2 linked regions of the Homo sapiens genome follow. The protein of the gene in region 1 purifies or fractionates together with the protein of each later gene. This does not show direct contact. Each region holds a gene or a part of one and is shown on either strand. Other genes may lie near its edges. The genes, in order: TLE6 and NLRP7.

Region 1 (3,809 bases):
GAAAGACAGGGTCTTGCTCTGTTGCCCAGGCTGGAGTGCAGTGGTGCAATCTCAGCTTGCTGCAGCCTCGACCTCCTGGACTCACACAATCTTCCTGCCTCAGCCTCCCAAGTAGCTGGGACCGCAGGTGTGCACCACCACACTCAGCTAATTATTATTTTTAATTTTAAAAGTGTTTTTAATTATTATTATTATTTTTTTAGATGGAGTCTCTGTCACCCAGGCTGGAGTGCAGTGGCACAATCTTGGCTCACTGCAAGCTCCGCCTCCCTGGCTCACGCCATTCTCCTGCCTCAGCCTCCCAAGTAGCTGGGACTACAGGCGCCCACCACCACGCCCAACTAATTTTTTGTATTTTTAGTAGAGACAGGGATTCACCGTGTTAGCCAGGATGGTCTTGATCTCCTGACCTCATGATCTGCCCGTCTCGGCCTCCCAAAGTGCTGGGATTACAGGCGTGAGCCACCGCACCCGGCTCAGCTAATTATTTTTTGTAGAGATGGGGTCTCACTATGTTGGCCAGGCTGGTCTCGAACTCCTACACTTAAGAGATCTTCCTGCCTCAGCCTCCCAAAATGCTGGGATTAAAGCCGTGAGCCACCACACCTGGCTACTTTTTAAGTTTTTTGTGGAGACAGGGTCTTGCTGTGTTGCCCAGGCTGGTCCCTTTGGGGCCACCCCCGGGTCCTGCCCCCAGCCCACCGCAGTACCTCGAACACTTTTGTCCCCGCCGGCATGCTGTAGACGCCAAGGAAGTCGTCCATTCCAACGCTTGCCCACCACTGGCCTGGGAGAAATGGAGCATCAGCGAGACTTAGAACCACTACCTTTTTCCTTCCCAGAGTTCATCCTCCCCACCCACCTTTTTTTTTTTTTTTTTTTTTTGAGACAGGGTCTCACTCTGTCACCCAGGCTGGACTACAGTCAGTGGTATGATCACAGTTCACTGTGGCCTCAGCCTCCCCGGGCTCATGGGGACACCAGTGGCTGAAGGGGGAAGGGCGGAGGCGGACCGCGCCGGTGGGGCGGGTGGGGAGGAAGGGCCCAGGCACCCACCCCCTTCCCTCCCTCATTCCACTATAAGAGCATCCCCAAAATTGGTTTCTGCTACAGAAGGGTTCTGAGGTGTCCTAGAGGGTTGGGTGGGGAGCTGGCATTAGGTGGGGTCTTGTGGGAGGCTGGGGGCTGCAGGGGAGTCCCCTCATCTTCCGCCAGCCGCTTACCAAAGGGGGAGAACTTGACGCTCAGGATGACGCTGTCTTTTTGCCCCACCATGTGCCGCTGGCTCCCGCTGGTGCTTTGCAGCCACTGCTGGCCATTGGCCATGCCCAGCAGCACCCAGTCCTCCTGGGGGCTGTGGGACAGGCTCATTATCTAGGTAATGGGCAGTGGGGAGGGAGGAACCTGGTTAGGTCCCAGCCTGGCCCAGGAAGCAGGCAGGAGCCTGGGGACCTATCCTGGAGGCCGGGTGACTGACCCCTTCCTAGCTGTGCAGCCCTGGGACAAGCAACTTCGTATCTGTGCCTCAGTTTGTTGGTGTGTAAAATGGAGAGTCTTCCCTACTTTGCACCTGATACAGCATGAGTGTTTATTTTGAGACGGAGTCTCGCTCTGTTGCCGGGCTGGAGTACAATGGTACGATCTCGGCTTACGACAACGTCTGCCTCCTGGGGTTTAAGCGATTCTCCCGCCTCAGCCTCTTGAGTAGCTGGGACTACAGGCATGCGCCACCATGCCTGGCTAATTATTCTGTTTTTTTTTTTTTTTTTTTTTTTTTTTAGTAGAGACGGGGTTTCACCATGTTGGTCAGGCTGTTCTTGAACTTCTGACCTCAAATGATCCACCCGCCTTGGCCTCCCAAAGGGCTGGGATTACAGGCGTGAGACACTGCGCCCGGCCTGCAAAGAATATTTCTAATGATCTCTGTGTTTGGAGCATCAGTGAGACTTAGAACCACTACCTTTTTTCCTTCCCAGAGTTCATCCTCCCCCCCCCCCACCCGCCTCCCCCCCTTTTTTTTTTTTTTGAGACAGGGTCTCACTCTGTCACCCAGGCTGGACTACAGTCACTGGTATGATCACAGTTCACTGTGGCCTCAGCCTCCCCGGGCTCAAGCCATTCTCTCACCTCAGCCTCCCAACTAGCTGCGACCCCAGGTACGTGCCACCATGCTCAGCTAATTTTTATTTTTATTTTTTGTAGAAACAGGGTCTCACTATGTTGCCCAGGCTGGTCTCAAACTCCTGGGCTCAAGTCTTCCTCCCACTTCTGCCTCCCAAAGTGGTGGGATTGCAGGCATACGCCACTGTGCCTGGCCAACCTCATTTGTTTTTGAGACAGAGTTTCGCTCTTATTGCGCAGCCTGGAGTGCAATGGCACGATCTCGGCTCACCACAACCTCCACCTCCCGGGTTTAAGCGATTCTCCTGCCTCAGCCTCCCGACTAGCTGGGATTATAGGCATGTGCCACCATGCCTGGCCAATTTTGTATTTTTAGTAGAGACGGGGTTTCACCATGTTGGTCAGGCTCGTCTTGAACTCCCGACCTCAGGTGATTTGCCCTCCTCGGCCTCCAAAAGTGCTGGGATTACAGGTGTGAGCCTCTGCGCCCAGCTCTGATTTTTGTATTTTTAGTGGAGATGGGGTTTCACTATGTTGGCCACGCTGGTCTCAAACTCCTGACCTCAGGTGATCCACCCACCTTGGCCTCCCAAAGTGCTAGGATTATAGGCGTGAGCCACGGAGCCCGGCCTCAACCTCATTTTTTAATCTGAGGACCAGAGGATGCCTGGCCAAGCAGACCCCATCCCGGCCTCCGCACCTGAGACTTGAATTGGTACTCCAGAGGTTTCATGATGGTCCTCTGGTCCCAGCACCGCAGACAGGCATCCGGACCCCCAGTCCAGATGTTGTAGCCCTTGACCACGATACTCTTGACTCCATCAGGATAACCCTTGAGGTCCCTGGCCAGAAGGGACATCGGGAGGCAATCAGGTCAAGACTCTGAGGTTTGGGCCCCCGGAAACACCAGTCACTACATTTGGGCATGAAAGGGACAGTGCCACCACCCAAAAATCTCTGCCTGCACAGAGTGTCAAAGTTGGCAGAAAACAGACACAGGATCTAGTGCCGGCCCCTCCCAGCCCTCAGCCTCCCTTCTCCGTCCGCCTGGGCCTCCCCTTGGCCTCACCTAGGCCTCCCCTTGCCTCTTCCACCCTGAGTCCACCCGAGCTCTGAGGCAGGTCTACAGGAATCCCTTCAAGCAGGGAAGGGGAATAGTGCCGGGCGGGTGGTGTGCTGTATTTTACGTCAGCCATTGCTTCCTGCAAACATATGCTGATAGATATCTTATATGTTATAAATACATATATTATATATATGTGTGTGTGTGTGTGTGTGTGTGTGTGTGTATATATATATATATATATACGTATTTTTTTTTTTTTTGAAATGGAGTCTCGTTTTGTTGCCCAGGCTGGAGTGCAGCAGCACGATCTCAGCTCACTGCAACCTCTGCCTCCTGGGTTCAAGCGATTCTCCTGCCTCAGCCTCCCGAGTAGCTGGCATTACAGGCATGGGCCACCACGCCTGACTAATTTTGTATTTTTAGTAGAGATGGGGTATCTCCATGTTAGCCTGGTCTCAAACTCCCGACCTCAGGTGATCTGCCCGCCTCGGCTTCCCAAAGTGCTGGGATTACAGGCATGAGCCACCATGCCCAGCCTATTTACATATATTTAATATGTGTGTGTGTATACATATATGTATGTATGTATGTATGTATGTATGTATGTATGTAAAATTTTTTT
Region 2 (4,352 bases), about 52 Mb from region 1:
GGCCTCCATAGTGCCTATTTCTATAGATGGCATGCTGCAACTGATATATACATCTTCATTTGTGGGACCATTTGCTTCCATTAAATTAACAGTTTAAACTACCAAAATTCTGTGCTGAATGCTTTCCACAACATACACTGTTTTATTTAAAAACAATTTTAGGCCAGGTGCGGTGGCTCATGCCTGTAATCACCTGACATCAGGAGTTTGAGACCAGCCTGACCAATATGGTGAAACCCTGTCTCTACTAAAAATACAAAAAATTAGTTGGGCATGGTGGCATGTGCCTGCAGTCCCAGCTACTTGGGAAGCTGAGGCATCAGAATTGCTTGAACCTGGAAGGCAGAGGTTGCAAGAATGGAGATTGCACCACTGCACTCCAGCCTGGGCCACAGAGCAAGACTCCATCCAAAAAAAAAAATTAAATATCAGTTATCTATTTATTTTTTTGAGACTGGGTCTCACTCTGTGGCCTAGGCTGGAGTGAGATGGCCAGTCACAGCTCACTGCAGCCTCAAACTCCTGAGCTCAGGTGATCCTCCCACCTCAGCCTCCTGAATAGCTGGGATTACAGGTGCAGCCCATCATGTATGGCTAATTTTTTTGTTTTTGTTTTTGAGACAGTCTTGCTCTTGTCACCCAGGCTGGAGTGCAATGGCGTGATCGTGCCTCACTCACCCTCCACCTCCCTAGTTCAAGTGATTGTCCTGTCTCAGCCTCCCGAGTAGCTGGGATTACAGGCACCTGCCACCACACCTGGCTAATTTTTTGTATGTTTAGTAGAGACAGAGTTTCACCACGTTGGCCAGTCTGGTCTCCAACTCCTGACCTCAGGTGATCCACCCGCCTCGGCTTCCCAAATTGCTGGGACTACAGGCATGAGCTACCACGCCCAGCCTATGCATGGCTAATTATTAAATATTTTTGAAGAGATGGCATCTTGCTATGTTGCCTAGGCTGGTATCAAACTCCTGGCCCCTAGGGATCCACTGGCCTAGGCCTCTCAGCCTGCTGGGATTTATAGGCAGGAGGCACCACAGTTGGCCACAAAGTAGACTTATTGTATTTGTAACTTAGGAAGTCACGGGAGTTTTTGTCCTCTTTTTTTTTAATTTTTATTTATTTTTGTTTAATTTTTTTTCTCTACAAGAGTTTTTAAAGCTGGGAGCCAGGTACCCTGCAAAACCCAAAATGTGTATTTCCTGTTCTGTCGCCTATCACACCTGGCCCGGGTGGTCTAGGAAGGGAATTGCACATTAATCTCACCTGGGGAGATTCAGCAAGCCGTAATTCTCCAAAGCCCACTGAAGCCCAATTACAGCCAAATCCCTGAGGATGGGGCCCAGGTGATGTCAAGGTGAGCCTGAGGTCAGTGGTTGGGAGCCACCCAATGTTAATCTCAGTGGGGCGGTTCCACCCTGGGCGGGAAAGCTGTCTCTCCACCTAGCGTACCAAGGGCCAGAGACCTCCCCTTTTTATCCGTTTCCTTTGCAGGAAACACAGGCTGGAAGCAAGACCTGACCTGAGGGAGGTGAGTGCTGGTTCTTGCATCGATTTCTTTGTCTTCTCGTTTAAGGGAGAAGAAGCTATTGGTTGAGTTTCCACCATAGCCCTTCCCAAGCCTTAATGGTTGGTGCGAGGATGCTGGAAGGATCTTTGATTTTTTTTTTTTTGAGACGGAGTCTCCCTCTGTCGCCCAGGCTGGAGTGCAGTGGCGTGATCTTGGTTCGCTGCAAACTCCGCCTCCTGGGTTCACCCGCCATTCTCCTGCCTCAGCCTCCTGAGTAGCTGGGACTACAGGCACGTGCCACCATGCCCAGCTAATTTTTGTATTTTTAGTAGAGACGGGGTCTCACCATGTTGGCCAGGCTGGTCTTGAACTCCTGACTTTAGGTAATCTGTCTGCCTCGGCCTCCCAAAGTGCTGGGATTCCAGGTGTGAGCCACCACGCCTGGCCTAATGTCTTAAGGACTTCTATTCAAATATAGTTTAGAGGAGTTCAGGAGATTGAGACTAGCCTGGGCAACATGGTAAAACTCTGTCATTACAAAAAAATATAAGGCCAGGCACAGTGGTTCATGCCTGTTATCCCAACACTTTGGGAGGCCGAGGCGGGTGGATCACTTGAGGCCAGAAGTTTGAGACCAGCCTGCCCAAAATGGTGAAACCCTGTCTCTACTAAAAACACAAAAATTAGCCAGGTGTGGTGGTGCATGCCTGTAATCCCAGTTACTTGGAAGGTTGAGGCAGGAGAATAGCTTAAACCTAGGAGGGGGAGGTTGCAATGAGCTGAGATCGCGCCACTGCACTCCAGCCTGGGAGACAGAGTGCGACTCCGTCTCAAAAAACAAAGAAGGCCAGACCTTGTGCTGTGTCCAAGCTACTTGTGGGGTGAGGTGGGAGGATCACCTGAGCCAGGAGGTGGGGGCTGCAATGAGGTGTGATTGAGCCACTGCACTCCAGCCTGGATGAGATGAAGACCCTGTTTAAAAAAAAAAAAAAGTAGGCTGGGCGCGGTGGCTCACGCCTGTAATCCCAGCACTTTCAGATCACCTGAGGCCGGGAGTTTGAGACCAGCCTGACCAACATGGAGAAACCCCATCTCTACTAAAAATACAAAATTAGCTGGGCGTGGTGGCACATGCCTGTAATCCCAGCTACTCGGGAGGCTGAGGCAGGAGAATCACTTGAACCCGGGAGGCGGAGGTTGCGGTGAGCTGAGATTGCGCCACTGCACTCCAGCCTGGGCAACCAGAGTGAAATGCTGCATCAAAAAAAAAAAAAAATGTAAATGGCCAGATGCGGTGGCTCACGCCTGTGATCCCAGCACTTTGGGAGGCCGAGGCGGGTGGATCAGCTGAGGTCAGGAGTTCGAGGCCAGCCTGGCCAACATAGAGAAACCCTGTCTCGGCCGGGCGCGGTGGCTCACGCCTGTAATCCCAGCACTATGGGAGGCCGAGGCGGGCGGATCACGAGGTCAGAAGATCGAGACCATCCTGGCTAACACGGTGAAACCCCATCTCTACTAAAAATACAAAAAAAATTAGCTGGGCATAGTGGCGGGCGCCTGTAGTCCCAGCTACTTGGGAGGCTGAGGCAGGAGAATGGCGTGAACCTGGGAGGCGGAGCTTGCAGTGAGCCCAGATCGCGCCACTGCACTCCAGCCTGGGTGACAGAGCAAGACTCCATCTCAGAAAAAAACAAGAAACCCTGTCTCTACTAAAAATACAAAAACTAGCCCGGCGTGATGCGGTGCGCCTGTAATCCCAGCTTCTTGAGAGGCTGAGGCACTAGAATCACTTGAACCTGGGAGGTGGAGGTTGCAGTGAGTCGAGATTGTGCCACTGCACTCCAGCCTGGGCAACAGAGGGAGACTCCATCTCAAAAAAAAGAAAAAAAGAAAAAAATGTACTTGGGAAAAAAAATACTTGGCCAGGCCTGGTGGCTCATACCTGTAATCCCAGCACTTTGGGAGGCTGAGGTGGGCAGATCACCTGAGGTCAGGAGTTCAAGACCAGCCTGGCCAACATGGTGAAACCCCGTTTGTACTAAAAATACAAAAAAAATTAGGTGTGGTGGGGCATACCTGTAATCCCAGCTACTTGGGAGGCCGAGGCAGGAGAATCGCTTGAACCCGGGAAGAGGAGGTTGTGGTAAGCCTCGCACCATTGCACTCCAGCCTGGGCGACAGAGCAAGACTTTCTGAAAAAGAAAAAAAAAACCCTGAATTTTTCTTTTCTTTTCTTTTTTTTTTTTTTTTTGAGAGGGAGTCTCACTCGCCCAGGCTGGAGTGCAGTGGCGCGATCTTGGCTCACTGCAAGCTCCGCCTCCCAGGTTCAAGCCATTCTCCTGCCTCAGCCTCCCAAGTAGCTGGGACTACAGGCGCCCGCCACCATGCCCGGCTAATTTTTTTTTTGTATTTTTAGTAGAGACGGGGTTTCACCGTGTTAGCCAGGATGGTCTTGAGCTCCTCACCTTGTGATCTGCCCGCCTCGGCCTCCCATAGTGCTGGGATTACAGGCGTGAGCCACCGTGCCTGGCCAAAAAACCCTGAATTTTTCTAAGTACATCAAGCGTTGTCACTGCAAAAACGAAAGGCAACTATATGAAGCAGTGGATATGTTAATTAGCTGGATTGTGGTAATCATTTCACTGTATATATAACATCGCTCCATGCTGTACACTTTGACAAGTAAACGTTGTATATATTACTTTAAAAATACTTAAAAAATAGAGACAAGGTCTCCTTGTGTCGCCCAGGCTGGTCTGGAACTCCTGGGCTCTCATGCTCTTCCTGCTCCATCCTAAAATAGGATATATGTAATTATACCTCACTGAAGGGGTGGCCTGCC

Evidence for each region.
Region 2: the proteins of TLE6 (region 1) and NLRP7 purify together in Homo sapiens (co-immunoprecipitation; one study listed by IntAct). This does not show direct contact.

Annotation. Positions count from the first base shown.
Region 1 is NC_000019.10:2,990,997-2,994,805, reverse strand, and holds part of TLE6 (transducin-like enhancer protein 6), read right to left. Parts: intron 2,964-3,809; coding exon 2,822-2,963; intron 1,375-2,821; coding exon 1,224-1,374; intron 788-1,223; coding exon 711-787; intron 1-710. UniProt on the Homo sapiens protein: Component of the subcortical maternal complex (SCMC), a multiprotein complex that plays a key role in early embryonic development.
Region 2 is NC_000019.10:54,944,648-54,948,999, reverse strand, and holds the start of NLRP7 (NACHT, LRR and PYD domains-containing protein 7), read left to right. Parts: upstream 1-1,469; 5' UTR 1,470-1,531; intron 1,532-4,352. UniProt on the Homo sapiens protein: Inhibits CASP1/caspase-1-dependent IL1B secretion.